Homo sapiens: one gene and its partners. The protein of the gene in region 1 purifies or fractionates together with the protein of each later gene. This does not show direct contact. Each region holds a gene or a part of one and is shown in the gene's direction. Other genes may lie near its edges.

Region 1 (7,024 bases):
TTTCCTAGTTTTGTAAGAGAAGACTTAGCCCTTAAGAAAAGAATTAATAAGAATAATTACTATTTGGCTGGGCGCGGTGGCTCACACCTGTAATCCCAGCACTTTGGGAGGCAGAGGCAGGCAGATCACAGGGTCAGGAGATCGAGACCATCCTGGCTAATAGGGTGAAACCCCGTCTCTACTAAAAATACAAAAAATTAGCCAGGCCTGGTGGCGGGCGCCTGTAGTCCCAGCTACTCAGGAGGCTGAGGCAGGAGAATGGCGTGAACCCGGGAGGTGGAGCTTGCAGTGAGCCGAGATGGTGCCAATGCACTCCAGCCTGGGCGAGAATGCAAGACTCCGACTCAAAAAAAAAAAAAAAAAAAAAGAATAATTACTATTTGTTAACACCAGTAAAGAGGACAGCATTGATTTTGGAGGGTAATTAATAAGTTGATCAGTAATACCCTTGGCACATGGAAGAATAATTGCACTGTTGATATTAAGAAGTCACTCATAGGAAATGTCATTTTTATCAGCATTTTTTTAATTGAAATGATTAGTCTTTACATGGGAGGAAGCAGCCTCTTACCTGCATAAGGATTTTTGAAATGCTCTCAGTAATTCAAAACCATGTCCAGATGTTTAAATTACTACATGTAATAGCCTTATACCTATTGCAGTTTTCTTTAACATGGTTCAGCACTTTCTCAAAGGAAATTTCAATTATTTTTCCTCAAACGATAGAAAACAAAATGAACAGGAGCAGGCTGAACTCGATGGAACCAGTGGTCTGGCTGAGTTGGACCCAGAACCAACGAATCCTTTCCAGCCAATAGCATCTGTAATCATTGAGGTATGAATGATGGCAAATGTAATTTTTGTATCTTAAGTTATAAGTTGGAACTTGGAAAAGAAGGTGGAAAGTTGGGAAAGGAGGCAGGGAAACAGATGTGTTTCTTCTGAGAGATTATTTCTATAAGAAATTAAACATGAGAGACTGATTAAAGGTTTACTGCTTTTTCTTACTCTTAAATTACCTTTGAATCTAGTGTGAAAGGGGGAATATGACTTCAGAATTAAATGACAATAAATAAATTTGACTGTAGCAATTATTATAGTTGCTGTGTTGACAAATCTATTCTGTCATTTATTTCATATAGTAATAACATATTTACTCTTATTTACATTTTCTGTGTTTCTGTATTGCTGTTACTGTCCATCTGCAATATTTACTTAGAATGCATTAGGGTACATAAACAATTTTCTATTTTTCCAGGATACTTAAGGATGTTTGAAACTGCAATAAATTCTCCTATATCTGAATATCATTTATTTCCATTTTAAATCAGAAATTTTACCAACATTAATTTGTAGATTTTAATTATGAAGACGTTAAGGGGTTGTGTGTGTGCGCGTCTGTGTTTTTGTTTTCATTTTCTGCTCATGTCCAGAGTTTGCATTGGCTCTGCTTTTATGGCTGGCAGCAGCGATGCCTCTTCTGAGGCATTGCTTCCTAAACCTTAGGCTGACTTCCTGGTCCTACCTGGAAGGTTTTTTTTTTTTTTTGTCTCCATTCTATCAGATATTATATTTGTCAAGTTTTGTTTTATGTTCTTTTAAAAATATTGAGAGAGAAGAGGTCAAGTTGTACTTTTTACTTTGAAACAACAATTATTCTCTGTGTATAATAAGGCTTGCTTTATAAATAATGGCTAATTATTTTATAGTACCATGGGTATAAATTGTGTAGAAGGCTCTAGTGCTTCTCCCAGCACCGTATTTCCCACAATGTATAGAAGTGAATAATAGTGGTGTACGACATAGTATATATCACATATAGAAAGTTCCCAAATTAATAAGTGGCATGGGGAAAGTACACTTAACGCTTTGAAACTACAATTTCAAGAAGATGGCCAGTAAAGAAATAAAAGCAAATTAGCTATAGTTTTTTTTTTTTAACCATACAGATTTTCTCTTTTTTTCCCCACAAAACTTTTTTAGCATGTTTCTTGGTACAGAAGCACCTAACATTTTTTTTTATTATTACTGCAGATAATTAAAATGGTGAGATATTGGAAGGTATTGGTTCCAGAAGAGACAGACAGATCAATGGAACGAATATTAATAAACCTATTTATGTATGAGCATTTTAGTACAAGATAAAGATAACATTTCAAATCTGAGAGAAAAAAATAATAGAACAACTTAATAACCATTTAGAAAAAGGAAAATTATTGAATATTGTATACCCAGTTAAATTCCAAAAGTATCAAAAACTTAAATACGTTTTAAAAAGTGAAAGTCTTCAAGTTACTAGTAGATAATATAGATAAGTCTTTATATGTGCTTGGAGGAGGAAAAAATTTCAAAGCAGGACAAGCAAGCCACAAATCATAAAGGAAAAAGGTGGATAGATCTTATACTACCCAATTTTTAAAGAGCTATTCTACAAAGTTAAAAAGCAAAAATGAAAAGAAGTAAACTCTAGTGAGAAATAGAACACATAGTCTTATGTGACTCTGTGACTAGTCCTAGTGACACGTATGCACAAAAGAACTCTTACAAATTACTATGAAAATAATGAGAATCTAATAGAAAAGTGGGCATTGGGTTACCAAAGGCAGTTTCCTAAAAAAAAATTAAAAATGTCAATAAGTGGCCAGGCACGGTGGCTCACGCCTGTAATCCCAGCACTTTGGGAGGCCGAGGTGGTTGGAGTTCAAGACCAGCCTGGCCAAGACGGTGAAACCCTGTCTCTGCTAAAAATACAAAAAATTAGCCAGGCGTGGCACGAACCTATAATCCCAGCTACTCCGGAGGCTGAGGCAGAGAATTGCTTAAACCTGGAGGGGTGGAGGTTGCAGTGAGCCGAGATCGTGCCACTGCACTCCAGCCTGGGCGACAGAGCGAGACTCCATCTCAAAAAAAATAAAATAAAATAATTCAATAATAGTTCATTTTTGCTGGCAATAAAAATTTTAACTTAAACTCAAATGAAAATAACACTAAGTTAAATAAAAATATGTATTAATACGGCAGAGATGTAAAAGGTCAATCATGATATGTGGTATTGAATATGATGTAGAAAAAAATCACTCTCCCAACCCTTTGCCTGAGGTTCATTGATTCATTTTTTCTGAAGGGAAGTTTGTGACTATATGTGACATTTTTAAATTTGCCTACCCACTGACTCAACAGTTCTACTGTTAGCAATTTAATCTAAAAAAATTAAAAAAAAGCTATTAGGATGATTCTGTTTTTTAAAATAGTGAAAAATTGGAAATACTTTGTTCATTGATACAGAATTGGTATGCTATAAACATTCAAAATAATAATTGATGAAAATAATTGTATCTAACATTTATGTAGCATTTACTATGTGTAAGGCACTGTTCTGAGCACTTTATATATTCATTGGCATGGAAAGAAATGTATATTCTTCAATAAAAACTTCAATTCTTTTTTGTTTAAACAACAAATACATAAGTATATATAGATACATATATTTATGTATGTTTCTGGGTGATGTATGTCTGTACATGATATAGGTATGTATGTGTGGGGGTTGGCAGAGAAAATCATCTCTTAGTGATTATATACTGAACAGATTATATACGGAATAATACAGATGAATAGTAGTCATCTCTAGATTGTGGAATTACTGGTAATATTTGTTTGCTTTTGTTATACTTTCTGTTTTACTGAATGTTTGACATTTAGCATCTTTTAATGATGTATTCATGAAATCATTTTTAAAATAGAAGTCTCACAGTGTCCTTGAAGTTACAGAATCCTGTTAAGGTATTTGATTTCCTCTCCCTTAAAACTATCTTAGATAAAACCATCATAGTAAAGATAATGTATTTTATTTTTTGTTAGAATGAAGGAAAACTTGAAAGAGAGAAAAAAAACCAAAAAATGGAGAAAGACAGTGATGGCTGCCACCTGAAACATAAAATGGAGCATGAGCAAATAGAGACACAAGGCCAGGTTAATCACAATGGCCAAAAAAATAATGAATTTGGACTAGTAGAAAATTATAAGGAGGCATTAACACAGCAGTTAAAGAATGAAGATGAGACAGACCGGCCATCATTGGAATCAGGTAATAAATCTAGTTATTTAAAGTAATTATCTTATGTATATATAAATAAAACTTATACTTCATCTCATTTTTTATGTTTGTTTTTACAAACGAGTACTTCAATATTTTTCTGTCTTCAAATGCCATATTTACCATGATTTTCTCAAGGTCTTTTATTATTCAGTTTGTTCCTAACCTGTTTTTCCATGACTTAAAATGTGGTCCTTTGTAACTTATAAGGATTTCAGCAGAAAATTCCATTTTTATTTTCATAAATTTGGGATACAGCATAGCTCTCAAGAATCCTTGGAATAGCCCTCCCCCTCCTCCCCCTCCCCCCTCCCTCTTCCCCTCTCCCTCTTCCCCTCTCTCCCTCCCCCTCCCCCTCTCCCCCTCCCCCTCCTCCCCTCCCCCTCCCTCTCCTTCCCTCCCCCCTCCCCTTTCTTTCTTTCTTTCTTTCTACAGTCTCCCTCTCTTGCCGAGCCTGGACTGTACTGCCATGATCTCGGCTCACTGCAACCTCCCTGCCTCGGGCTCCTGTGATTCTCCTGCCTTAGCCTGCCGAGTGCCTGGGATTCCAGGCACGCGCCGCCACTCCTGACTGGTTTTTGTATTTTTGGTGGAGATGGGGTTTCGCCATGTTGACCGATCTGGTCTCCAGCTCCTGGCCTTGGGTGATCCGCCCACCTCGGCCTCCCGAGGTGCTGGGATTGCAGACGGAGTCTCGCTCACTCAACGCTCAATGTTGCTCAGGCTGGAGTGCAGTGGCGTGATCTCGGCTCGCTACAACCTCCACCTCCCAGCCGCCTGCCTTGGCCTCCCAAAGTGCTAAGATTACAGCCTCTGCCTGCCCGCCACCCCGTCTAGGAAGTGAGCAGCGTCTCTGCCTGGCCGCCCATCGTCTGGGATGTGAGGAGCCCCTCTGCCCGGCTGCCCCATCTGGGAAGTGTGGAGCGCCTCTGCCTGGCTGCCACCCTGTCTAGGAAGTGAGGAGTGTCTCTGCCTGGCCGCCCATCATCTGGGATGTGAGGAGCGCCCCTGGCCGGCCGCCCTGTCTGGGAAGTGAGGAGCGCCTCTGCCCGGCCGCCCCGTCTGGGAGGTGAGGAGCGCCTCTGCCCGGCCGCCACCCCGTCTGGGATGTGAGGAGCGTCTCTGCCCAGCCGCCACCCCATCTAGGAAGTGGGGAGTGCCTCTGCCCGGCTGCCCTGAATGGGAAGTGAGGAGCGCCTCTGCCCGGCCACCCCGTCTGGGAAGTGGGGAGCGCCTCTGCCTGGCTGCCCCGTCTGGGAAGTGAGGAGCGCTTCTGCCTGGCCGCTCCATCTGGGAGGTGAGGAGCGCCTCTGCCTGGCCGCCACCGCATCTGGGAGGTGAGGAGCGTCTCTGCCCGGCCGCCACCCTGTCTGGGAAGTGGGGAGCGCCTCTGCCCGGCTGCCCCATCGGGTAGGTGAGGAGTGCCTCTGCCCGGCTGCCCATCGTCTGGGAAGTGAGGAGCGCCTCTGCCCGGCCACCCATCGTCTGGGAGGTGAGGAGCGCCTCTGCCCGGCCGCCCCGAATGGGAAGTGAGGAGCGCCTCTGCCCGGCCGCGCCGTCTGGGAAGTGGGGAGCGCCTCTGCCCGGCCGCCCCGTCTGGGAAGTGAGGAGCGTCTCTGCCTGCCCGCCCCTCGTCGGGGAGGTGAGGAGCGCCTCTGCCCGCCGCCGCATCTGGGAGGTGTACCCAACAGCTCCGAAGAGACAGTGACCATCAAGAACGGGCCATGATGACGATGGCGGTTTTGTCGAAAAGAAAAGGGGGAAATGTGGGGAAAAGAAAGAGAGATCAGATGGTTACTGTGTCTGTGTAGAAAGAAGTAGACATAGAAGACTCCATTTTGTTCTGTACTAAGAAAAATTCTTCTGCCTTGGGATGCTGTTAATCTATAACCTTACCCCCAACCCTGTGCTCTCTGAAACGTGCTGTGTCAACTCAGGGTTAAATGGATTAAGGGCGGTGCAAGATGTGCTTTGTTAAACAGATGCTTGAAGGCAGCATGCTCATTAAGAGTCGTCACCACTCCCTAGTCTGAAGTACCCAGGGACACAAACACTGCGGAAGGCTGCAGGGAGCTCTGCCTAGGAAAACCAGAGACCTTTGTTCACGTGTTTATCTGCTGACCTTCTCTCCACTATTATCCTATGACCGTGCCACATCCCCCTCTCCGAGAAACACCCAAGAATGATCAATAAATACTAAAAAAAAAAAAAAAGAAAGAAAGAAAAAAAAGAGTTAAAATGCCAGAGCCCCCAACTGATCTGTAGATTTAAGGCAATTCCAAACAAATCCCAGCATGAGTCTTTGTAGATATAGGCAAGTTCATTATAAAATATATGTAAAAGTAAAGGACTGGAATACCCAAAACAATTTTGAAGAAAGATCAAGGTTAAAGACTCATACTACCCAATTTAAGACATACTATAAAGTAGTGGCCGGGCACAGTGGCTCATACCTGTAATCCCGACACTTTGGGAGGCTGAGGCGGGAGGATCACGAGGACAGGAGATCGAGACCACAGTAGAGACCCCGTCTCTACTAAAAATCCAAAAAATTAGCCAGGCGTGGTGGTGGGCGCCTGTGGTCCCAGCTACTCAGGAGGCTGAGGCAGGAAAATGGCGTGAACCTGGGAGGCAGAGCTTGCAGTGAGCCGAGATGGTGCCACTGCACTCCAGCCTGGGCAACAGAGCAAGACTCCATCACAAAAAAAAAAAAAAAAAGAAAAAAAAAAGACATACTATAAAATAAAACCACAGTGATCATAACAGTATAGTATTGACTAGAGGATAGACACAGAGATCAATAAAACACAATAGAGATTCTAGAAATAGATCCCCAAAATATGGTAATTTTAATGAGTTTCATTGAGGTATAATTGACTTACAACAAACTGCACATATTTATAGTATAAAGATTGATACATTTTGATA
Region 2 (7,356 bases), on another chromosome or scaffold:
ACTTGGACAAAGAAAAAATACTATGTGGTTCTACAAAACAGAGAGTCTGAGGACAATAAGTGAAATAGTATCTCTCATTTACTTGGGAATCTGTCAAAGGAATAAATTATCTGCAGCAAGGCAAGTGATTAATTTATCTAATGATTCACCAAAATCCAGTCAAAGGATGCATAGGGGACATAATTGAGAAAGTTTACCTTCACATATGACACTGAATTATTTTCAAATTAATATAATTACATGTAATTATTGCTATTATTGCGTGTGACCATATGACTGACACAGGACTCGGGGATATGAGTTATTACTAAGCCAGTTTCATCAGTTCTTGGATATTTAAAATATAGTTCAAAGAATACTTCATGGAGGGTATTTATTGGCATCTGAGATTTGATGAAAGGGTGAGATTTGATGAAAAGGTGACTTCGTGGTTGGTGTAGGGAGGTCATTTAAACTACATATAGACTCATAGAAGAAAAGGTAGGAAAAAGTGGTTCTGGGAATCCAATAGAGGGACATGTTAGATAATCCTAATTTGCTTCTTTAAATTTCTTGCTGCATATTTGAGGTGAAAGAGAATATGAATTTCAGATCCATGCTGTCATGTGTACTGTTGGTGTAATTTTGGGGTCTACTAAGAGCTTTTGCTCTATCTAGGAGCATGGGAAAAAGTGAAGGGTAAAGGTGAAGCGTTGTAACTAGCCACCTAATAACCATAGCCAATGAGTCTTTATTTCCCTTCACTGGTAATTGTGCAAAATAAATCTTATTTGGGGATTTGTTTAACTCTTTGAAGAAAAGGCCTATATCTTACACATTTTATAAGCAACAGCTATTTTTAGGCTTGTTTTCAAGAACAGGAATGAATACAGCTGGCAACAATTACTTTTAAAATGTAAGGCTTAAATAAGCATTCTTTTAAAAGGGTATTTAAGAGGGTAGCCACAGCTGGACGTTCCTATCATTATGCCTCCCATGTCAATCAAAGTTTTTCTATAGTCTAGGTCCACATCAAGTCCAGTGAACATACTAACAAAATGTGTATTTATGTAAACATAACAATGTTATTAATAGTAGCATTACAATAATGGTTTGGTGGACCTTCGTTATTTCCAGCTTCTGCCATGGTCTCCTCAAATAGTATATGAGATGAAATAAACAGAGTTCTTTAAATTTGTGGGGAAATCTGAAAGGCTGCCAGTAATAACTCTTTTCCAGATTCAAAGTAACTATCCTTTGAAGGACAGTATGCAGACTGCTAGTTGAAAAAATAAAATATAGCTTGATATGGGTGGTTGATACATAAACATATACATATACACACATACACATATACATACATATACATATACATATACATATACATATACATATACATATACATATACATATACATATACATATAATATATACCAAATCCTGGGCTTGGTAGTAACCAGAGAAACTCTCAAGGCTGCTGATCCTGCTAGACACGTGGCATAGCAGTTCAGTGTGCCCTGGCTTGCTGCAGCTGCCTTCCACGTGCAAGAAGCCACTTCTGAGAATCAGTAGTAAATGGAGAAAATTACATGTGAGGTATATCTGAAATATGTGAAATAGAGACTGACTTATCCTGTAGTAGAGTATAGCAAGTAGGCTGAACTCTTTTTGTATAATGCAGAGTTCTTTAAATTTGTGGCATAACCTGAAAGACTGCCAAGCATAAAACATCACTTTGTAAATAAACCTGAGTGACTTACACAAGTTAATTTAGAGGACTAAAATGAGTCCTCTAAATTTTCACAGCCTTTCATGTAAAATCATTAGAACTCTAAAGTCATAGATTTCAAATTTTGTAGCTTTCAGGTATTGCTATAATTATTACAGAACTTGCAAATATAAAGAAATTCAAATTTACCTCTACCAAACAAGGAACTGAATGTACTCGATGATGAAAACACAGACATTATAAAAGACGTAATTTTTGAAACTTAGAATTGTGCTTTGGAATATCTCAACTTGTGGAATCTTTTGATGGAGCTGTTGCTTTTAATTGGATGAAACTATATTTTGTATCTAAATGGATTAAAATTGAGATGACATAATTTTGTAGTATTTAAACTTGATTGATACCATCAAAATAAACGTACATTTTCAAGACTTATATAATGAGCTTTGTTTTGTAAAAACACTTGTTGCACAATATAACTGAGTGAGGTTTAAAAAAATACAACAGCTAGGAAAAGATTTGAACTGAAAAATTTGTACATTTCAATATAGAGAAATTAGAATGGAGAATATATTTTATTTAGCAGAGTGTGTTTTGAGCTTAATACGTATCTCACCACTTAATTTTCCATTTAAAACATTATAGTCTTCAGAGAAGCATTCGTTAAAGCTGTCAGTAATTTCAAATTTATGTGAAACTGTGATGATTTCAGGAAATTTTATGAACAAATTAAAAATAAGAAAGGCCACATTGAAAAAAATTGCATTCTTTGGAAAAATGCGAGTATCTGGTATTGGAGAAAATACAACTAAGAAACTGATTAAAGTATGTGAATATGTACCAAGAGTAAGTATTCTGCTTATGCCACGTTTAACATTTAGGTAATTGATAAAAAGAAGTTTCATAAAATTATATATGTGTGTATATATACATATACGTCACTGTTAAGGGTTTTCTATTAAAAAAAGCAAAAAGCAATAAAAATAAAATGTGAAATAAATTTTAAAGCAAAAAACAAAATTCTAAATAGGTCTGAAGATTAATTACAGCTTAGTTACAGCTGATGTTATTTAAAACAGCATTCCATGATACTGCTTAGTTATCATAAATGAGGCCCACTAAACAAAAAGTTTCGGTAACTTCTCTACTGGGCAGAAATTATTTTAATTATTGTGTTAGCAAACGGCTTAATAGAAATGATAATGTGATATACATTATTTCTCATTTAAATTTTCCTCTAAACATAAAATTTTACAACCATGAAACTGAAGGAGTCAACCTGTTCAATGACTATAAAGCTGCGTGGCAAACAAGCTAAGTGGGAATTAAAACAGCTTAGGCAAAAATAAATAAAAATTGTAGCTTTTTAAAAATCAATTTTCATCCCCCTAATTCTGGAGAATTTATACTCTGCCTCTTTTGCTTGTGTTTTAGGAAAGAAGCCCAAAATTCAGGGTACATGAATTAAAATTAAATACTAAGATCAGTAAACCTCAATTGGCACGAATAAACAATATGAAAGAGTAAGCACAAACACGATCTATTTGTTTATCCATCTTTCTTATTGTGATAGCTATACTATGAAATTTCTAAAACTAGATGGGAGACTGGCTTAATATTTTGGCAAATAACCACATGCAAGTTAATGAGGAATGGGAAATAGAGCACTCTGGATTTTAGCATAAACAATTAAAATAAAAAATGCTACATTTCCTATTCCATCAGTTGACGGTATACTTATTTTCCCGGGAGAAATTTGGAATCTAAGCAACTCAGGTCCAGTAAGTGCAAACAACTGACATGCTTAGTCCAACAGGCCCCTGTGAGCAGGCCCTCTAGGGCATTTCCTGACGCCACATGACCAAGACCTTCCCCCCTAGTGGACGCTGCGGGTGATCAAGTGGCCCTGAGGAGCAGGGGCCTGAGACCCAGTCAAGCCTGCTGTCAACCTCCATCTGATGGAGGCCACGTCCTTTTCATGAGGCTGGTAGGAATGTCGCTGTATACCCCCACTATTTCTATTTTCGCAACATTCTTCCCAGTCTTTTCCTTCCTTCTCTTCGTCCCAGCCAAAGTAAAAGCATCCCTGGAATTTAATGGACTGAAAGGAGACCGGACGACTGAGGGGTAGAACGGGGCCCGAAGTGGCTTTGGAAGCAACGGGGTTAAGGGAGAGGCAAAAGGGTTGAGCAGAGAGAGGCAAGAGGCAATCTCCCCCTACCCAACTGCCCCTCCCAGGAGCAGATACGGCACCAACAGCCGGCGAGTCCCTCCGGCCTGGAAGACAAAGGAAGGATCAGGGCCCAGTGGTGACGGGGAGGGTGGGGGCAACGACTCGCGTGAGCTCGGAGACGTGAGAACGCAGCCCCCGCCCCGTTCTCCGCCTCCCCTGAGAAAGGCGGGGCCCCCACGCCGCCCCGAGACAGGTCTCCCCGCCGCGCCGGCAGCGGGTCCCAGGCGGCCGCACACGCCCAGGCACGGGATGCTGCGGGAGAGCGCGGTGGGGGAGGGGAAGGACGCGGAGGCGGAGCCGGCGGGCAAAGAAAGGCCGAGCGGCGGGGCGGGGGCGGGGGCGGGGGCGGGGTCTGGGCTGGGCGGGCGGGGCGGAGCCGGCCGGCCGGGGGCTGCCTGAGACAGTTACTGCCCTGACGGCGGCGGCGGCGGCGGTTGGCCGGTGGGGGCTGGGGCGAGCACGACCGATTCTGCTGGGAAAGCTGGAACTGGCAGCCGCCGGGGGCCAAGAGGAGGATCCGGAGCTGGGAGCGTGCCCCGGGCCCGGCGGAGGAGGCGGCTGCAGTTGGAGTGGAGTCTTGGGAGCGCTGCTGGCAGCGACTTCTCAGCGAAGCAAGTGTCTGAGACTGAGAGTCCCTAACAGCGGCAGCGGCGGCCACGGCGGCGGCTGGGGCCGAGGTAACCGGGGGGCGGCGGCGGCGGTGGAAGCGAGGCCCCTCCCTCGGGTTGGAAGCTGGGAGGCCGAGGCCGTGGCTTGGACCTGACCCAACCACCCACCCTCTCCGGCCTCGAGCCCCAGATTTGCCCTCTTCCCTCGCACCGCCGTCGGCCGGGTGGGAGCGGGAGCGGGGCATGGGGCGGGAGCGCAGAGGCGGAAGCCGACCGGGAGGCGACCCCTCGTCTGGGATTGGCAAGGACCTCAGTCACCCCCTCCCCCTTCAAAAGACACACCCCAATCTCGGTGCGGGGCGGGGTGCAGAGGCGCTCCCAGCCTCTGGAAGGGCAGACCTCGGTGTGGAGGCTGCACCTTCGCTCGTGGCCTCTCTGAGGTGGCTCCCCTGTGGCTCCTCTGGGCGGTTCCAACCCAAGGTGGTGCCCGGCGCTGGGAATCCCGGAGTTCCTTTTGTCTGTCAGCTGAAACTGGAGGCCGGACCTGTGGGCAGACACCCACCAGCACCGAAGCACTCTACTCTTTATCCCTTTCCTGTCTTGGAAGGAATTTCTCTCTAGCAGCCTTTTCTCCGGCCAGACTGGTAGATTTTATCCCTGACCTCCATCCTTGGCCCAGAGGAAGGAAGGATTCACATTTTACTTGTGTTTGCTTTATCATTCTTATAAGAACAGTCATCCCCCATCGTTTTTGTTTTTTTTTTTTAAACCGTTTCCCATCCAGCTGCAACCCTGGTAATCTTCCCCTAGATTTTTGCACATTATCAACAAAGAAGTGTGGCTGGAGGAGTAGACAGTCCTTGACTGACTGGACTGTGTAAGTTAATAGAGCTTCCTTAGCTGGCGCTGTTCTACCAGTCTACTGTGAATGAGCGTTTTGCCTGGAGTTAAGGGTGTTACTGTATGTGCGTAAAGTTTCTCCCCCCCTCCTTTGCTATGGTGAAGTTGCAAAAATCTTGGGTAACTTGATTAAAATGTGGCTGTTTGGGAAGCATAACAATGAGGAAGAAAAATGCAGAAGGGAGAATGTGATTATTTCAGTGGTTTTTGTCCAACTTTTTGAAAGTGCCAAAGGTGAAGTACGTGGATTTTTGAGATTACGTTAACTGGTACACTGCAACCTTTATTGTCCTTAATAAGTTTTTAACATATGATATTTTGCACTGAGGTATTTTTGTTTGTTTTATTTTAGTTACTTGTGGAAATTGTTGATTACCCGGACGTCTTAAAACCAAGAAACCTGTGAACAGGTTCATTAAGAATCTGCTGTCTTGAAAAATGCATATTATGAATGCTTTGAATTAAGAAGGTGTTAACAGTGGTTGTCATTTCTGCCACATAAGAGACTATAATCTGAAACAGTTCCTGGCAGTTGCCCAGATGCCTGAAACTGGCACGATCTAGTACTCTTGAGTGATCATCCTTCAACGAGAAATACAGAGCTACTTACATACTGTACCTCATACCGTATAAATGTAATCTCTCTGATGCCATTTAATGCAGTGGACCTCTTTTCAGAATCTAATTGTCAGATGCAGAATTAACACTTGGAATCTGGAGAAGCATTTTGTACAAATTGAAAGATTGGGTTTTTTCTTTAGTTTTCCACATGTATTGTCTCATCTCTGTTCTTGAAACATCCACAATCACATAAACTCCAGTTATAACCATGGAGTTATGTGACTCATTAAAATTTAGGAAAAGTGTTGCTGAGCTGTGGAATCAGGCGTTTCTCCCTCAGTTCAACAACTAATACATAGACTGCTGATCAAGAATAAGGAACCAAATAAAGTCATGCACGTTCTGTTGACAGAGGAACTCTGTGGCTGTTGAATTTTACTGTAACTAGTTACTCTGTCTTCAGAGTCAACTTAATATACAAGTTATGTCATAATGGATGGAAAGACCTGTGTTGATGTATCCAGACTCTAGCAAATGAAGATAAAAAACCCGTTATGACTAATCCTTGGGAAGAGAAAGTCTGCAAAATGGCTCAAACCAGTTTACTGCAAGGGAAGCAGTTTTACTGTAGGGAGTGGGTTTTCCACAAGCTTCAGCATTGCCTCCAGGAGAAAAGTAACTGCTGCAATAGTGCTGTCAATGCACCATCACTTGTAATGAATTCTGGGAATAATGCTAGTGGTGTCTCTGGAAAGGGAGCTGCCTGGGGTGTGTTGTTGGTAGGAGGGCCTGGCAGTGGCAAGACGGCCCTATGTACTGAACTCTTATGGCCAAGTTCACCTGCAAGTTTGCAGAGAGGTTTACATCGCCAAGCTTTGGCCTTTCATTTCTGCAAAGCCCAGGACTCTGATACTTTGTGTGTTGGAGGGTTTATTAGAGGTCTAGTAGCCCAGATCTGCCGCAGTGGACTACTCCAAGGATATGAGGACAAGCTAAGGGATCCAGCAGTCCAAAGCCTCTTACAGCCTGGGGAGTGCGAGAGAAACCCAGCCGAAGCATTTAAAAGGTAACAATAAAAATGTCATGGTGTTCAGATTTCTATGCTGAAATTAAATTAATTTTTAGTTGTAGTTTTTTGTTTTAACTTTGTGGGTTACTTTTACTGGTGCTGTACATTTGGCCTTAATCTGAAGTTATGAGTATACCTGTTTACTTTGAATATCAAAGGAAGTAAAATTTAGGTTTTGGTATTGCACAGCATATGGATTAAAATGGATTAAAAGTGTATCTTAATTTTACTTAATAACATAATGTTACTTACATTGCCTATAAATGGTAAGGGAAAT
Region 3 (7,870 bases), on another chromosome or scaffold:
TGACATATTTTTGACTAAGGATCATGTTTGACTGATGTAATTTTTTTTTTTTTTTGAGACAGAGTCTCACTCTGTTGCCCAGGCTGAAGTGCAGTGGTGCAATCTCGGCTCACTGCAACCTCCGCCTCCCAGGTTCAAGCGATTCTTCTGCCTTAGCCTCCTGAGTAGCTGGGACTACAGGTGCGTGTCACCACTCCCGGCTAATTTTTTTTTTTTTTTGTATTTTTCAGTAGAGACAGGGTTTTGCCGTGTTGGCCAGGCTGGTCTAGAACTCCCAACCTCAGGTGATCTGCCTGCTTCAGCCTCCCAAACTGCTGGGATTACAGGTGTGAGCCACGGTTCCTGGCCTGGCTGATGTAAATATTAATGCAAAAATTGGAAGCTAAGATGAAAGTAACACTAATTAGTAGGAGTAGAATTTATTTCATATTAAAATGTATTGTGGTGTAATTTTTTTGTTGTCGTTGTTGAGACAGAGTCTTGCTCTGTCGCCCAGGCTGGAGTGCAATGGTGCCATCTCGGCTCACTGCAACCTCCGCCTCCCGGGTTCAATTGATTCTTCTGCTTCAGCCTCCCAAGTAGCTGGGACTTCAGGCATGCACTACCATGCCCGGCTAATTTTTGTATTTTTTTTAGTAGAGATGGGGTTTCACCATATTGACCAGGCTGGTCTCAAACTCCTGGCCTTGTGATCCATCCACCTCAGCCTCCCAAAGTGCTGGGATTACAGGCGTGAGCCACCACACCCAGCCTGTGTTGTAATTTTTATGGCTTGGCTAAAGCAACAGTTTTCAGAGTGCACCCTCCTTGGTGCTACTCACAGAGATGTGATGTGCTGTTGCTGCTTTCTAACTCTGCCTACTTTGTGACCTCTTAAGAGGATGAAGTTGATAAAGTAAACCAGTGTCAGTGGCTAAGTCTAGAAGACCTAGAAAACATAGGAATAGGTCCTGAACCTATTGCTCTTGCGATTGCACTGCAGACATCAAGAAGCAGGTGGCTATTTCCACACATTGAGATCTATAATTCGCAATCCCGAAGATGATGGAAAAAATACCCCTTGGTGCATTGCAGAGATGCTACAAATCACCAAGCAAGCCATGGGATTGGCTGTACCTTTAATTGAGAAAAAAAACTTGAGAAGAAGAGCAATAAAACTCACGAGGACATCATTGGTATCAGATCTCAAAACCACGGCTCTTTGGTTGAGGGAAACAATTTTTTAATGAGTAAATGTTCATCTCCAAACCAAAAAGTGAAGTAGACCGTATTCCCCAATGTAAATATTGGCAACCTAAGAAAGCTAGGAAATTTTACAAGACTTGAAACGAAAGTTAACTTCTTTTTTTCTTTTTTCTTTTTTTTTTAAGACCCAGCTATCAGAGACTTTCTATGTCTTAGCAGCCTCCTGATAAAGGAAGTCAAATGACCAATCAAGTTTTTAGTGAAGAAATCCAATCAGGCCAGGTGCAGTGGCTCACGCCTGTCATCCAAGTACTTTGAGAGGCCAAGGCTGGGGGATCACTTGAGGTCAGGAGTTTGAGACCAGCTTGACCAACATGGTGAAACACCTTCTCTACTAAAAATACAAAAATTAGCTGGGCATGGTGGTGCATGCCTGTAGTCCCAGCTACTTGGGAGGTTGAGGCAGAAGAATTGCTTGAACCCAGGAGGTGGAGATTGCAGTGTGCTGAGATTGGGCCACTGCCCTCCAGGCTGGGTGACAGACTGAGACTCCATCTCGAAAAAACAAACAAACAACTATTTTAGTTTTGATGGCTTAACCATTCATTCCCTATGTCTTCATGGTTAATTGAAGGTTACTGACAGTAGACAAAAAATGTATTCTCATTTGACTCTAATTTTTCCCATATTCTACTTGAACAAATTTAAAATGTTCTGCTGCCTATACACCCCGACATCTAGGAGTATTAAGACTAGTCAGTCATAAAATAAACCTGATACATCAGATGAATGCCAGCACCTATTCAATTTCGTTTTGCTCTGTTTTCAGAAATGTCAGAATAAATATATATTGGTTACTGGACATTCTAGAAGGAAGTCTTCAAGTTTTAATTTTTTTCCAGTGTGAGCATGCCTCAACATTTTGCATAGACTGTCAGAACTATTGAAAATTTAGGCTGGGCAAGGTGGTTCATGCCTCTAATCCCAAGCACTTTGGGAGGCTGAGGTGGGTGGATTGCTTGGGCCCAGGAGTTCGAGACCACCCTGGGCAACGTGGGGAAACCCTGTCGCTACCAAAACTACAAAAAGTTAGCCAGCTATGGTGGTGTGCACCTGTAGTCCCAGCTACTCGGGAGGTTGAGGCAGGAGAATCGCTTATACCCAAGAGGCGGAGGTTGTAGTGAGCGGAGATTGCACTACTGCACTCCAACCTGGGAGACAGAGTGAGACCCTGTCTCAAAAAAGAAAAGAAAAGAAAATTGTGCTAAAACTGGTTTTATGACAATAACCATGACCACATAAACCAAGAGTCTCCTCTGTAACCCACACAATAAGAAAGTTGCCCCCTCTCCCTCTCCCTCTCCCTCTCCCCACGGTCTCCCTCTCCCTCTCCCTCACGGTCTCCCTCTCCCTCTCTTTCCACGGTCTCCCTCTGATGCCGAGCCGAAGCTGGACTGTGCTGCTGCCATCTCGGCTCACTGCAACCTCCCTGCCTGATTCTCCTGCCTCAGCCTGCCAAGTGCCTGCGCGCTGCCACGCCTGACTGGTTTTCGTATTTTTTTGGTGGAGATGGGGTTTTGCTGTGTTGGCGGGGCTGGTCTCCAGCTCCTAACCGCGAGTGATCCGCCAGCCTTGGCCTCCCGAGGTGCCGGGATTGCAGACGGAGTCTCGTTCACTCAGTGCTCAATGGTGCCCAGGCTGAAGTGCAGTGGCGTGATCTCGGCTCGCTACAACCTCCACCTCCCAGCCGCCTGCCTTGGCCTCCCAAAGTGCCGAGATTGCAGCCTCTGCCCGGCCGCCACCCCGTTTGGGAAGTGAGGAGCGTCTCTGCCTGGCCGCCATCCCATCTAGGAAGTGAGGAGCGTCTCTGCCCAGCCGCCCATCGTCTGAGATGTGGGGAGCGCCTCTGCCCCACCGCCCCGTCTGGGATGTGAGGAGCACCTCTGCCCGGCCGCGACCCCGTCTGGGAAGTGAGGACCGTCTCTGCCCGGCCGCCCCGTCTGAGAAGTGAGGAGACCCTCCGCCCGGCAGCCGCCCCGTCTGAGAAGTGAGGAGCCCCTCCGCCCAGCAGCCGCCCCGTCAGGGAAGTGAGGAGCGTCTCCACCCGGCAGCCACCCTCTCCGGGAGGGAGGTGGGGGTCAGCCCCCGCCAGGCCAGCCGCCCCGCCCGGGAGGGAGGTGGGGGGGTCAGCCCCCCGCCCGGCCAGCCGCCCCGTCCGGGAGGGAGGTGGGGGCGGTCAGCTCCCCGCCCAGCCAGCCGCCCCGCCCGGGAGGGAGGTGGGGGCGGTCAGCCCCCCGCCCGGCCAGCCGACCTGCCCGGGAGGGAGGTGGGGGGGTCAGCCCCCCGCCCGGCCAGCCGCCCCGTCCGGGAGGGAGGTGGGGGGGTCAGCCCCCCGCCCCGCCAGCCGCCCTGTCCGGGAGGTGAGGGGCGCCTCTGCCCGGCCACCCCTACTGGGAAGTGAGGAGCCCCTCTGCCCGGCCACCACCCCGTCTGGGAGGTGTACCCAACAGCTCATTGAGAACGGGCCATGATGACAATGGCGGTTTTATGGAATAGAAAAGGGGGAAAGGTGGGGAAAAGATTGAGAAATCGGAAAGTTGCTGTGTCTGTGTAGAAAGAAGTAGACATGGGAGACTTTTCATTTTGTTCTGTACTAAGAAAAATTCTTATCCTGTTGATCTATGACCTTACCCCCAACCCTGTGCTCTCTGAAACATGTGCTGTGTCCACTCAGGGTTAAATGGATTAAGGGCGGTGCAAGATGTGCTTTGTTAAACAGATGGTTGAAGGCAGCATGCTCCTTAAGAGTCATCACCACTCCCTAATCTCAAGTACTCAGGGACACAAACACTGCAGAAGGCCGCAGGGTCCTCTGCCTAGGAAAACCAGAGACCTTTGTTCACTTGTTTATCTGCTGACCTTCCCTCCACTATTGTCCTACGACCCTGCCAAATCCCCCTCTGCGAGAAACACCCAAGAATGATCAATAAAAAAAATAAATAAATAAAATAAAAAAAAGAAAGTTGCACAGCATATTCCAACAAATATCAGTTTGGTACCTTTAGAGCCTTACTTTGTTGTAGTGATTATCAGCTGAAAATTATGTCTGTTGTAACTTTGGTAAGCATTCCACTTTGGTTATTTATTAGTGGTATTTTTTTTTTAAGTGTCAAGTGTCAAATCTTGGGACTATTAAAATACCATGGTAAGTAAAAAAAAAATATGGTCTGAGAACTGGTACCTATCCACGACATAAGTGCAGAAACTGAGAGTATGAGTTTGCATACTTTCAAAGTTACTCGACAGAGTTATTTCGTATATGCTAAAAAATAATAAGAAAAATCTGTACGTGTCTTTTCCATGTTTACATTTTTAAATTTCATTTTCCTAAGTATATTTTTGTGTATATTATAAAAGTAGTAGACTTCCAAGGACTAGGAGAACAACCTTAGATAGTAGAGAATCACCTAAACGACCTATATCTTCTTCAACAGCTTAAGCTGTGTACTGCGCTAGAGCCTCCCTCAATGAGGAACTACAATGCCCAGAATTCCCCCAAAATGCGTGAGCGACGTCCATTTCACCCACCTCGCCGCGACCCACCCTGGGATATGTAGTGCGTGACTTCCGCAGTGCACGCTGCGCCTGCCGGGCATTTTTTCCTGGTTTGGGGGCAAGGTCTCATGGGAAAGGTCATGTCTCTCGAAGAAAGGTTATAAACCCTGAGATATGAGGGTTGGGCGAGACATCCGAGCCTGTTTCGTTCCGTGTTGGGACCAGGAATAACCCTGACTTCTGAGCTTTCATAACCCCAGGATCCTCCAGAAAATTTGCGGCGCGCTGAGGGAAAACCTTGCTGGCAAGTCGGGACTGTGTGGCAGCGGCTATTTTTCTTTTCCCACCCAGCACGTTTTCGGGCTGGGGACATAGGGTTCAGTTGAGATACGGAGGCTTCCTTCGGGATATTGGGTTCTCTGAAGTGCGGATGGACTAGGGCAGGGCTGAGACCCCATTCATTCACTCATTTGTTTAGCTCTCCTTTATGCCCGGCGCAGAAGATACCCCTTAGGGTCCCAAGGCCCTTCCTGTAGTTAAGTTCCTTCCTTAAGGTCATTCAGCTGGGGCAAAGCTGGGGACTCGACACCTTTCTATGCTAACCATTGAGCTGCCTCCACTTTGAGCAGCTCAGTGGATGAATATAGTATCTTGAGGATACCTTTGATTTGTGCAGGGTTTTCTTGTGCAGGTTTGTGACCCAGGTCAGCTTAGGTCAGGATGCTGTACTGCTTGCCACAAAATAGCCTGTACTGTCGCGTCGTTTTTTCTTGTGAACAGACTGTTTGGCATAGCCGTAGAGAGGGGTCTGAGACATGAATTTAGTGATACAGCGTTGATTTGTTTGTGTAATGAAGCTGTTCAAGTGGAAAGAACTGAGTTGTAGTCCCTGCTTCACTAGTACTAGAAGGATTTTTTAAACCTTTTTGAACCTATTTTGCCTTATCTGTAAAATGGAAATAATATCAACCTGGAAGGTTAGCTGAGAGAATTTAATGAGATAATGTGTTTCAAACGTTCTTTGTAAATGGTAACATGTTGCAGAAATATTAGATTATATGACTTTAGTCCCTGCTTTTCTAACCATTACTTCTCAATTATAAATGTAAACATTTATAGCATATTTTTAAAACAAATTATTCTTTTTTCATAATTATCTTTAGTTCTTTTATTGTTTCAGCATGACTTGAAACATTACTTAATTTCTTAGTATTTCTTGATTGGTGCTTTAATTGTGTCGTTCATTGGTTAAAACCTATCCAAGGCCAGTAATGATTAAATTATATGACTTCTTTTATTTATTTATTTTCTAAAGAAAGGAATTATTTGAGCTCTTTAAGGGCACAAGAAAAAGGGGCAAGAAATTATCCTGAAAGCAAATAAACCTGAGACCATACTTCTGAAAAATTAAAAAAAAAAAGTATATATATATGTATGTATAAATATATATGGCTCTGAATTAATGCCTACACTTTTTAGAAACTTTGAAGGTGATTATTTATTTTAAACAATTTTCCTCTTTTTCGAAAAGACAGCTCTGAGTTTGTGGGCTTTTTTTTTCCTTTTATGGTAAATTTGAAAACTTTATGTAAATGTCAGATTTAAAACACTTTTAAAATGGGGTGCAGAAAGAAGCCCCTTTTTCTGGACATTTATTTTTTGATCAAATTCTGCTATCTGGTTTAGACTAAGAAAAAGTCTTTAGTTAATGCAGAAAAAATGTATTACTTTAATTTGAATTTTGGAATCATTTTGATATTAATGATGTAAGCATAACCATGTTAAACCAATTCTTTTATAGAAGCTGTACATTGGAATGCGTTTACAGTCATTGTAATGGAAGCAAAATACATGAAGGAAAAACTGTTATTTGTATCCCTGCTTATTGCACCTGACGACTAGTTGCAGATGGTTTTGTTTACCTAAGAAAACTTGTGATATAAATGAAAAAAACACCTGTTTTCCTAGAGTCATTGGTTACAAATATGCTTCGTCTAAGAGCTATTTGTCCATTCTCCTGGAGAGTGTTTCAATTTCGACCCATCAGTTGTGAACCACTAATTATTCAGATGAATAAGTGTACAGATGAGGAGCAAATGTTTGGTTTTATTGAAAGAAACAAAGCCATACTTTCAGAAAAGCAAGTGGGATGTGCATTTGATATGCTTTGGAAGCTTCAAAAGCAGAAGACCAGCCTGTTAAAAAATGCTGAGTATGTCAGAGACCATCCTCAATTTCTTACTCTTCATAATTTAGCTACAAATAAATTCAAATTAATGAATGACGATACCCTGGTGAATGTGTTATACGTCACACAACAGTAAGTAATTTACTTTTATATTTTATGGAATGATTATATAGTTTACATTTTAATTTTCTAAAAATCTCTTTATTTTCATTTTATTTATTTATTTTTGAGGAGTCTCTGTCGCCCAGGCTGGAGTGCAGTGGCATGATCTCGGCTCACTGCAAGCTCTGCCTCCCAGGTTCACGCCATTCTCCTGCCTCAGCCTTCCGAGTCAATGGGACTACAGGCGCCTGCCACCACGCCCGGCTAATTTTTTTGTATTTTTAGTAGAGACGGGGTTTCACCATGTTAGCCAGGATGGTCTTGATCTCCTGACCTTGTGATCCGCATGCCTCGGCCTCCCAAAATGCTGGGATTACAGGCGTGAGCCACTGTGCCAGGTCTAAAAATCTCTTCAAAATGAAAAATAATTTTTTTCACCAGTAGTTTTCCTGATAATCTAATTTTTTTGTTTTGTTTTGTTTTGTTTTGAGGCGGAGTCTTGCTCTGTCACCAGGCTGGAGTACAGTGGCACAATCTTGGCTCACTGCAACCTCCGCCTCCCAGGTTCAAGCAATTCTCCTTTAACAACTGTAATACTATTGTTAACTGTGGGCATTTGAAATTGGATTATTGTGGAGTTTTGTGAAAATGTGGTTGGCTGCAGATGAGGATATAGTAGGTAAGCAGTTAGATTTAAGATTAATGCCAGTCGGGTGTGGTGACTCACACTTGTAATCCCAGCACTTTGGGAGGCTGAGGTGGGTGGATCACCTGAGGTCAGGAGTTCAAGACCAGCCTGGCCAACATGGTGAAACCCTGCCTCTACTAAAAATACAAAAA
Region 4 (7,024 bases), on another chromosome or scaffold:
CTGGATATAAGCTATTCTTAGGAATTTGGCTGCATAAGGGAAGGATGTATGGGACAGTTAGATAGAGGTGGTTGCAGGATCAAGAAATAAGTTTTTGAAGGTAGGAAAGAATTGAACATGGTAACAGACTGAAGGAAAGGAGAAAGTTTAAAGATAATTGGTAGCAGTGAGGTTAATGCCACAAAAAAGATGGGATCAAGGGTAAATCAGAGTAAGATTGATCTTGAATGAGAGAAGGAATGGCTGTTGAGACTGGAGGGCAGGATGGATGTAGAGAAGTTTATGTGCCCCAAAGGTGATGGAGTTCAAGTTGTAATTTTTTTAAATGAGTCATCTGCTGAGAGTGGCAGGAACAGAGGTTAAATAGAAAAGTAGTTAAGGGTGAGAATCATCAAGTAGAGAAGTATCTTAACAAGGATAAATCATTTCTGAAATGAGGGTCCAGCTAAGATTTGTGACTATCACTTTGCAGTACCCCAGTCTGTACAGTTGTATGATTTCCATCAGCAATGTTCAGCACTTCAGATTGGATGTAGAGAAGGGTTTCTGATTTTGCCAGATGGGCTGGAGAATAGTTCAAGGATACAAATTAGTTGATAGTGCTCATGAGACACTAATTTCTTGAGAGAAGGAGGAGAGTTCTTAAACACCCTTGTCAAGGTATCACTAGTGACTTCTTGAATGGGGACTCCATTGGACATTTCAGTTTTCATCTTACTTGAATTTCCAACGTAAATGGCATGGCTCAGATTCCTGCCTTCTCTTGGCGTCTCTGACACACACTCCTGGTTTTTTTCTTTGCTTTCTGGGCCTTAATTTTCAGTCTCTCATACTAGATTTTCCTCTTGTGTGTAATCTGTATGTATTGATGTTCCTCAGGACAGAATCTTGGGCACTATTCTCTTTTTCTCCATATTCTTTGTCTAGATAAGTATCTTCATAACTATTTTATATGACCTACAATAGGACATACATTTTTATATTGTAGCCCAGTAAACACATATGTGTAAATTTATGTAAATATAGCTGAAACAAAAATTTACTGAAACAATGTTTACCCTTCATATTTTCAGTGAGCTCTTTTTGTTTAAATTTTATTTCACGTTTAAGTATCTTGGTCATAACCTACAAAATTGTTTTCAGAACTTACTAACGGATGTGACCAACAATTTGAAAACTACTACTCTAAATTATGAGACAGAATTTTAAATAATGTTATATTCTGATGAATAAAGGAGAGGGCTGATAAACTGGGAGAGAATGAGTGAATTAAGGAAATGGTTTAAAGGCAGGTGTAGCAGAATGAAGATGAGAAAAGGGTAGGAGAGGAGAAGACCAGAGAATAGAGTATTTCAATTAAGATGTTTGAGGTGAAGCAATTCCAGATGATGACAAGCTCCATGTCTCGCCATGGCTATAAATTACTGAAATGGAGTTAAGATCATTGCTAAAGTTGAGGTCAGGGAACTGTGAAGCTGGAGTGTTAGGTATTGGATCTAGTATCTAGATGGAAGTCATCCAGGGTGATGGTGAGATTGGAATAGAGAAGCTGTGAACTAGGTACAAAAGACTTTAGTAAAGATAGAGGAGAGATTAGGAAGTCACTAATTACCAGCAACCAGGAAAGATCAAGGCAATATTGTTGCATTCCCAGATCCTCAGAAGAAGTGAATCTTGTTTTTTTTTTTTTTTTTTGGGTGGGGGGATGGAGTCTCGCTGTGTCGCCCAGGCTGGAGTGCAGTAGCGCAATCTCGGCTCACTGCAAACTCTGCTTCCCAGGTTCATGCCGTTCTCCTGCCTCGGCCTCCTGAGTAGCTGGTACTACAGGCACCCGCCACCACGCCCAGCTAATTTTTTGTATTTTTAGTAGAGACGGGGTTTCCCTGTGTTAGCCAGGATGGTCTCCATCTGCTGACCTCATGATCCACCTGCCTTGGCCTCCCAAAGTGCTGGGGTTACACGCGTTTGCCACTGCGCCTGGCCTCTTGTTAATTTTTTTAAAGGTGTGGAAGAATGTTTTGAAAGTGACCCTGAGGAGCAAGAAAAGTGCCACCTCCTTTTCTTTAAAATTGTGGGACAGGAAGCTAAAACACTTGGACTACCGAAAGTGTTACTCTCAGGGGAAATCAAGATTCTGTTAAAGTTAAGAAAATAGAAAGTATTTGTAACAAGATTCAGAATATAAGAGTTAATCATGGACCAGAAAGTGCAGAGAAAGGATTAGGGGCAAAGAAAGATGTTGGCTATGATGGGAGAGAAAATTTACCAGAGTATGGGATGAGAATACTAAAGAAATAGATAATAGAGGGGCTTGCATTTTGGTAAGATAATAGAAAGATGAGGAAGGAATGTTGCAAGAAACAATCTCATAGTTGTAAATGGAGCACGATGTCATATTTGAACAAAATTAGCCTTGTAGTGGTACACAGAACGGCAGTTTGCAAGAACAATTGTTGTGAATTAAATGTAAGGGTATGATGGGTCATTATTGTCTTGCTAGAGAAGACATCAAAGGATTGAACTATTTATTGTTTCCAAACAGCGATTAAAGTGAAGAAACAATGGCCAGCAATCACAAATCTTCAGCAGCTCGCCCTGTTTCAAGAGGTGGAGTTGGGTTAACAGGAAGGCCTCCTTCTGGGATACGACCCCTATCAGGAAATATTCGAGTGGCAACTGCAGTAAGTTTGAAACAAATCTATTTACTTTGGGAGGCCAAGGTGGGAGGACCACTTGAGTCCAGGAGACTGGGGCTTCAGTGAACTCTGATCATGCCACTGCACCCCAGTTTTTGAGTTTTTGAGACTGTCTCAAAAATCTGTTGAATGCTTGTGCATATATTGTGGTAGAAGTTGGAAATCCCCTCTGTAATAAGAGATTCTACTTTGTTGTTTCTTTATTTCATAAGCATATTATTAAACATGTTTGTTTTGTTTTTTGGAAAGCATCTGGAAATGTAAATGTGGAAGAGTGTTTGAAAGACACTCTGGGAAGAAGATGCCTGCTCCTGCAGATACTCAATTTAAAGCTGCAATAATTTTAGTTGAATAGTGTATTGGGGCCAGAATAAAATGAAATGGAATAGACCTCAAATAGAATCAAGCATATAAGAATTTAGTTAATGATTAATGTGTGTTTCAAATTAGTTGGCAAAACATGGAGCATTCAATAGAACATTCCAATAATTGTTAAACCATTTGTTTAAAAGTATTTTTAATCCTCTCTTATACCTTTTATCAGAATTCTACATAGCTTAGAAACTTGGTATTTCAAAAATGAAACCATAAATGTAGTAGAGGAAAATGTTGGCAAGTATTCTGTATAAACTTGATATGGGCTAGGCTTTCTAAACATGACAGAAATAACAAGTACTGAAAAGGAAAATATTTTTATTATATATCTGAATTTACAAAAAATAAAACACCATAAAAAATTAGAAATGACAACTGGTAAAAACATTTATAATATATATACCATATATAGGATCAGAATCTTAAAATTAAAAGGTAAACTTTACTAATTTTTTTTTTTTTCTTTTTTTCTTTTTTTTATTTTTATTTTTTTGTTATACTTTAAGTTTTAGGGTACATGTGCACATTGTGCAGGTTAGTTACATATGTATACATGTGCCATGCTGGTGTGCTGCACCCACTAACTCGTCATCTAGCATTAGGTGTATCTCCCGATGCTATCCCTCCTCTCTCCCCGCACCCCACAACAGTCCCCAGAGTGTGATATTCCCCTTCCTGTGTCCATGTGATCTCATTGTTCAATTCCCACCTATGAGTGAGAATATGCGGTGTTTGGTTTTTTGTTCTTGCGGTAGTTTACTGAGAATGATGATTTCCAATTTCATCCATGTCCCTACAAAGGACATGAACTCATCATTTTTTATGATTGCATGGTATTCCATGGTGTATATGTGCCACATTTTCTTAATCCAGTCTATCATTGTTGGACATTTGGGTTGGTTCCAAGTCTTTGCTATTGTGAATAATGCCGCAATAAACATACGTGTGCATGTGTCTTTATAGCAGCATGATTTATAGTCCTTTGGGTATATACCCAGTAATGGGATGGCTGGGTCAAATGGTATTTCCAGTTCTAGATCCCTGAGGAATCGCCACACTGACTTCCACAATGGTTGAACTAGTTTACAGTCCCACCAACAGTGTAAAAGTGTTCCTATTTCTCCACATCCTCTCCAGCACCTGTTGTTTCCTGACTTTTTAATGATCGCCATTCTAACTGGTGTGAGATGGTGTCTCATTGTGGTTTTGACTTGCATTTCTCTGATGGCCAGTGATGATGAGCATTGTTTCATGTGTTTTTTGGCTGCATAAATGTCTTCTTTTGGGAAGTGTCGGTTGATGTCTTTCGCCCACTTTTTGATGGGGTTGTTTGTTTTTTTCTTGTAAATTTGTTGGAGTTCATTGTAGATAGATTCTGGATATTAGCCCTTTGTCAGATGAGTAGGTTGCGAAAATGTTCTCCCATTTTGTAGGTTGCGTGTTCACTCTGATGGTAGTTTCTTTTGCTGTGCAGAAGCTCTTTAGTTTAATGAGATCCCATTTGTCAATTTTGGCTTTTGTTGCCATTGCTTTTGGTGTTTTAGACATGAAGTCCTTGCCCATGCCTATGTCCTGAATGGTAATGCCTAGGTTTTCTTCTAGGGTTTTTATGGTTTTAGGTCTAACGTTTAAGTCTTTAATCCATCTTGAATTGATTTTTGTATAAGGTGTAAGGAAGGGATCCAGTTTCAGCTTTCTACATATGGCTAGCCAGTTTTCCCAGCACCATTTATTAAATAGGGAATCCTTTCCCCATTGCTTGTTTTTCTCAGGTTTGTCAAAGATCAGATAGTTGTAGATATACGGCGTTATTTCTGAGGGCTCTGTTCTGTTCCATTGATCTATATCTCTGTTTTGGTACCAGTACCATGCTGTTTTGGTTACTGTAGCCTTGTAGTATAGTTTGAAGTCAGGTAGTGTGATGCCTCCAGCTTTGTTCTTTTGGCTTAGTATTGACTTGGCGATGCGGGCTCTTTTTTGGTTCCATATGAACTTTAAAGTAGTTTTTTCCAATTCTGTGAAGAAAGTCATTGGTAGCTTGATGGGGATGGCATTGAATCTATAAATTACCTTGGGCAGTATGGCCATTTTCATGATATTGATTCTTCCTACCCGTGAGCATGGAATGTTCTTCCATTTGTTGTAAACTTTACTAATTTTTAAGTGCTCTTTCTGTATTAAGACCACAAGCCTTATGTCCAATCAAAATTTCATGACATTTCTTTTGATGCTAGGGGTAATATTATAAAACTATTCTAAAACTCATCTAGAACAATACCACAAAAATAAGAAAAAGTACAGTACTCTAATGTAAAATATGTTATAGACAATGAGTGAAACAATATTCTGATTGCCACGGCACCTGGAGGTAAACTCTAGTAAATGTTAAAGAGCTTAATATAAGAGAGTGTGTCATAAATAGTGAATAAGAGAAACACATCATATGAGGAAAAGTTAGATGAAGTTTATGAGTTGATATTCTAAGCAGAAGGATATCCTGTAAAGATAATTATTACATTTTCGTTATCATTATAATGTAAAAATTGGGAAACAACCTAGAAGACTTACAACAGGTGAATCTTAAATAATGATATGTATATCCCTATAAAGGCTGTTAGATAGTCATTACAAACTACTTTCAAGATATTTCAGAAAATAATATACTTTAACAAAAGTTTAAAAGTGATATCAATTTAACATAGAAAACATAAATTTATAAATACATAGAATTGAAATGGAAATAAATGAATAGACAAAAATGTCCATAAATTTATCTGATTTTCACACAGGTGATTTCAACTGAGAAGGTGCAGAGGGCCAATACTCAACCTCCTACAGTAGGCTAAGTGCAAACTACAGATAATGTTGGGTCCTATGGTTAACTCATAAGAAGAGCAGCATTTTTTGGAGGGAATAATTTTGTTAAAGTCAGATTTTCCTAAAGTTTTCAGATTTTTTTTCTAGAGTTTCAGGTAATAATATTAGGACATCGTCATCAACTTAGACTGAAATAATTTTTCTGAAGTCTTCATACATAGGATAGTAAGGGTATCTTTTTCTTTTATTCCAGTAAAAATTGATAATTAAATATTTATAAAAAGAATCTGACATTTATTGGCCACCTACTATTTGCCAGGCACGTTATCTGTTTATTTGTAAAATTTTAAAATTTGTATGTATTCATGGGGTAGGTCAGTTGTCTTACATGCATATATTATGTAATGATGAAGTGTGGGCTTTTAGTGTACCCATCACCTGAATAGTGAACACTGTACCCAATATGTAATTTAGCAACCCTCACCTTCCTCCCACTCATCTTTTGTAATCTTTAGTGTCTGTTATCTCACTCTGTATGTCCGTATGTACCCATTGTTTAGCTCCCACTTATAAGTGAGAACATGCGGTATTTGACTTTCTCTTTCTGAATTGTTTCACTTAGGATCATGGCCTCTGGTTCCAACCATATTGCTGCAAAAGACATGATTTCTTTATTATGGCAGAGTAGTGTTTCATAGTATGTGTATATATATATATGTGTATATGTGTGTGTGTATATATATGTATATACATGTATACCACATTTTCTTTACGTAGCCCTCCATCTCCATTGATGGACAGTCAGGTTTTTTTTTCATATATTCGCTATTGTGGCAAGTAGTGTGATAAACATAGGAATGCAGGTATCTTTTTGAAATAATGATTTCTTTCCTTTTGCAGTGGGATTGCTGGATCATATGATAGTTCTATTTTTAGTTTTTTGAGGAACTTCCATACTGTTCTCCATAGTAGTTATACTAACTTACATTCCCCCCAACACTGTACAAAGGTTCCCTTTTCTTTATATATTTGTCAGCATTTGCTATTGCCTTTCTTTTGGATAAAAGTCGTTTTAACTGGAGTGAGATGATATCTCACTGTAGTTTTGATTTGCATTTCTCTGATGATCAGTGATG

What was found.
Region 2: the proteins of ARL13B (region 1) and ANKRD50 purify together in Homo sapiens (affinity purification with mass spectrometry; 4 studies listed by BioGRID and IntAct, with this or other methods). This does not show direct contact.
Region 3: the proteins of ARL13B (region 1) and FASTKD1 purify together in Homo sapiens (affinity purification with mass spectrometry; 3 studies listed by BioGRID and IntAct, with this or other methods). This does not show direct contact.
Region 4: the proteins of ARL13B (region 1) and IFT74 purify together in Homo sapiens (affinity purification with mass spectrometry; 4 studies listed by BioGRID and IntAct, with this or other methods). This does not show direct contact.

What each region holds. Positions count from the first base shown.
Region 1 is NC_000003.12:94,039,154-94,046,177, forward strand, and holds part of ARL13B (ADP-ribosylation factor-like protein 13B), read left to right. Parts: intron 1-726; coding exon 727-835; intron 836-3,861; coding exon 3,862-4,087; intron 4,088-7,024. UniProt on the Homo sapiens protein: Cilium-specific protein required to control the microtubule-based, ciliary axoneme structure. May act by maintaining the association between IFT subcomplexes A and B. Binds GTP but is not able to hydrolyze fit; the GTPase activity remains unclear.
Region 2 is NC_000004.12:124,709,720-124,717,075, reverse strand, and holds the start of ANKRD50 (ankyrin repeat domain-containing protein 50), read left to right. Parts: upstream 1-4,343; 5' UTR 4,344-4,618; exon of another isoform or gene 4,619-5,801; 5' UTR 5,802-6,564; coding exon 6,565-7,076; intron 7,077-7,356.
Region 3 is NC_000002.12:169,570,843-169,578,712, reverse strand, and holds the start of FASTKD1 (FAST kinase domain-containing protein 1, mitochondrial), read left to right. Parts: upstream 1-4,847; 5' UTR 4,848-5,044; exon of another isoform or gene 5,045-5,717; intron 5,718-6,541; 5' UTR 6,542-6,683; coding exon 6,684-7,060; intron 7,061-7,544; exon of another isoform or gene 7,545-7,709; intron 7,710-7,870. UniProt on the Homo sapiens protein: Involved in the down-regulation of mitochondrial MT-ND3 mRNA levels which leads to decreased respiratory complex I abundance and activity.
Region 4 is NC_000009.12:26,959,407-26,966,430, forward strand, and holds part of IFT74 (intraflagellar transport protein 74 homolog), read left to right. Parts: intron 1-2,542; 5' UTR 2,543-2,561; coding exon 2,562-2,681; intron 2,682-7,024. UniProt on the Homo sapiens protein: Component of the intraflagellar transport (IFT) complex B: together with IFT81, forms a tubulin-binding module that specifically mediates transport of tubulin within the cilium. Binds beta-tubulin via its basic region. Required for ciliogenesis.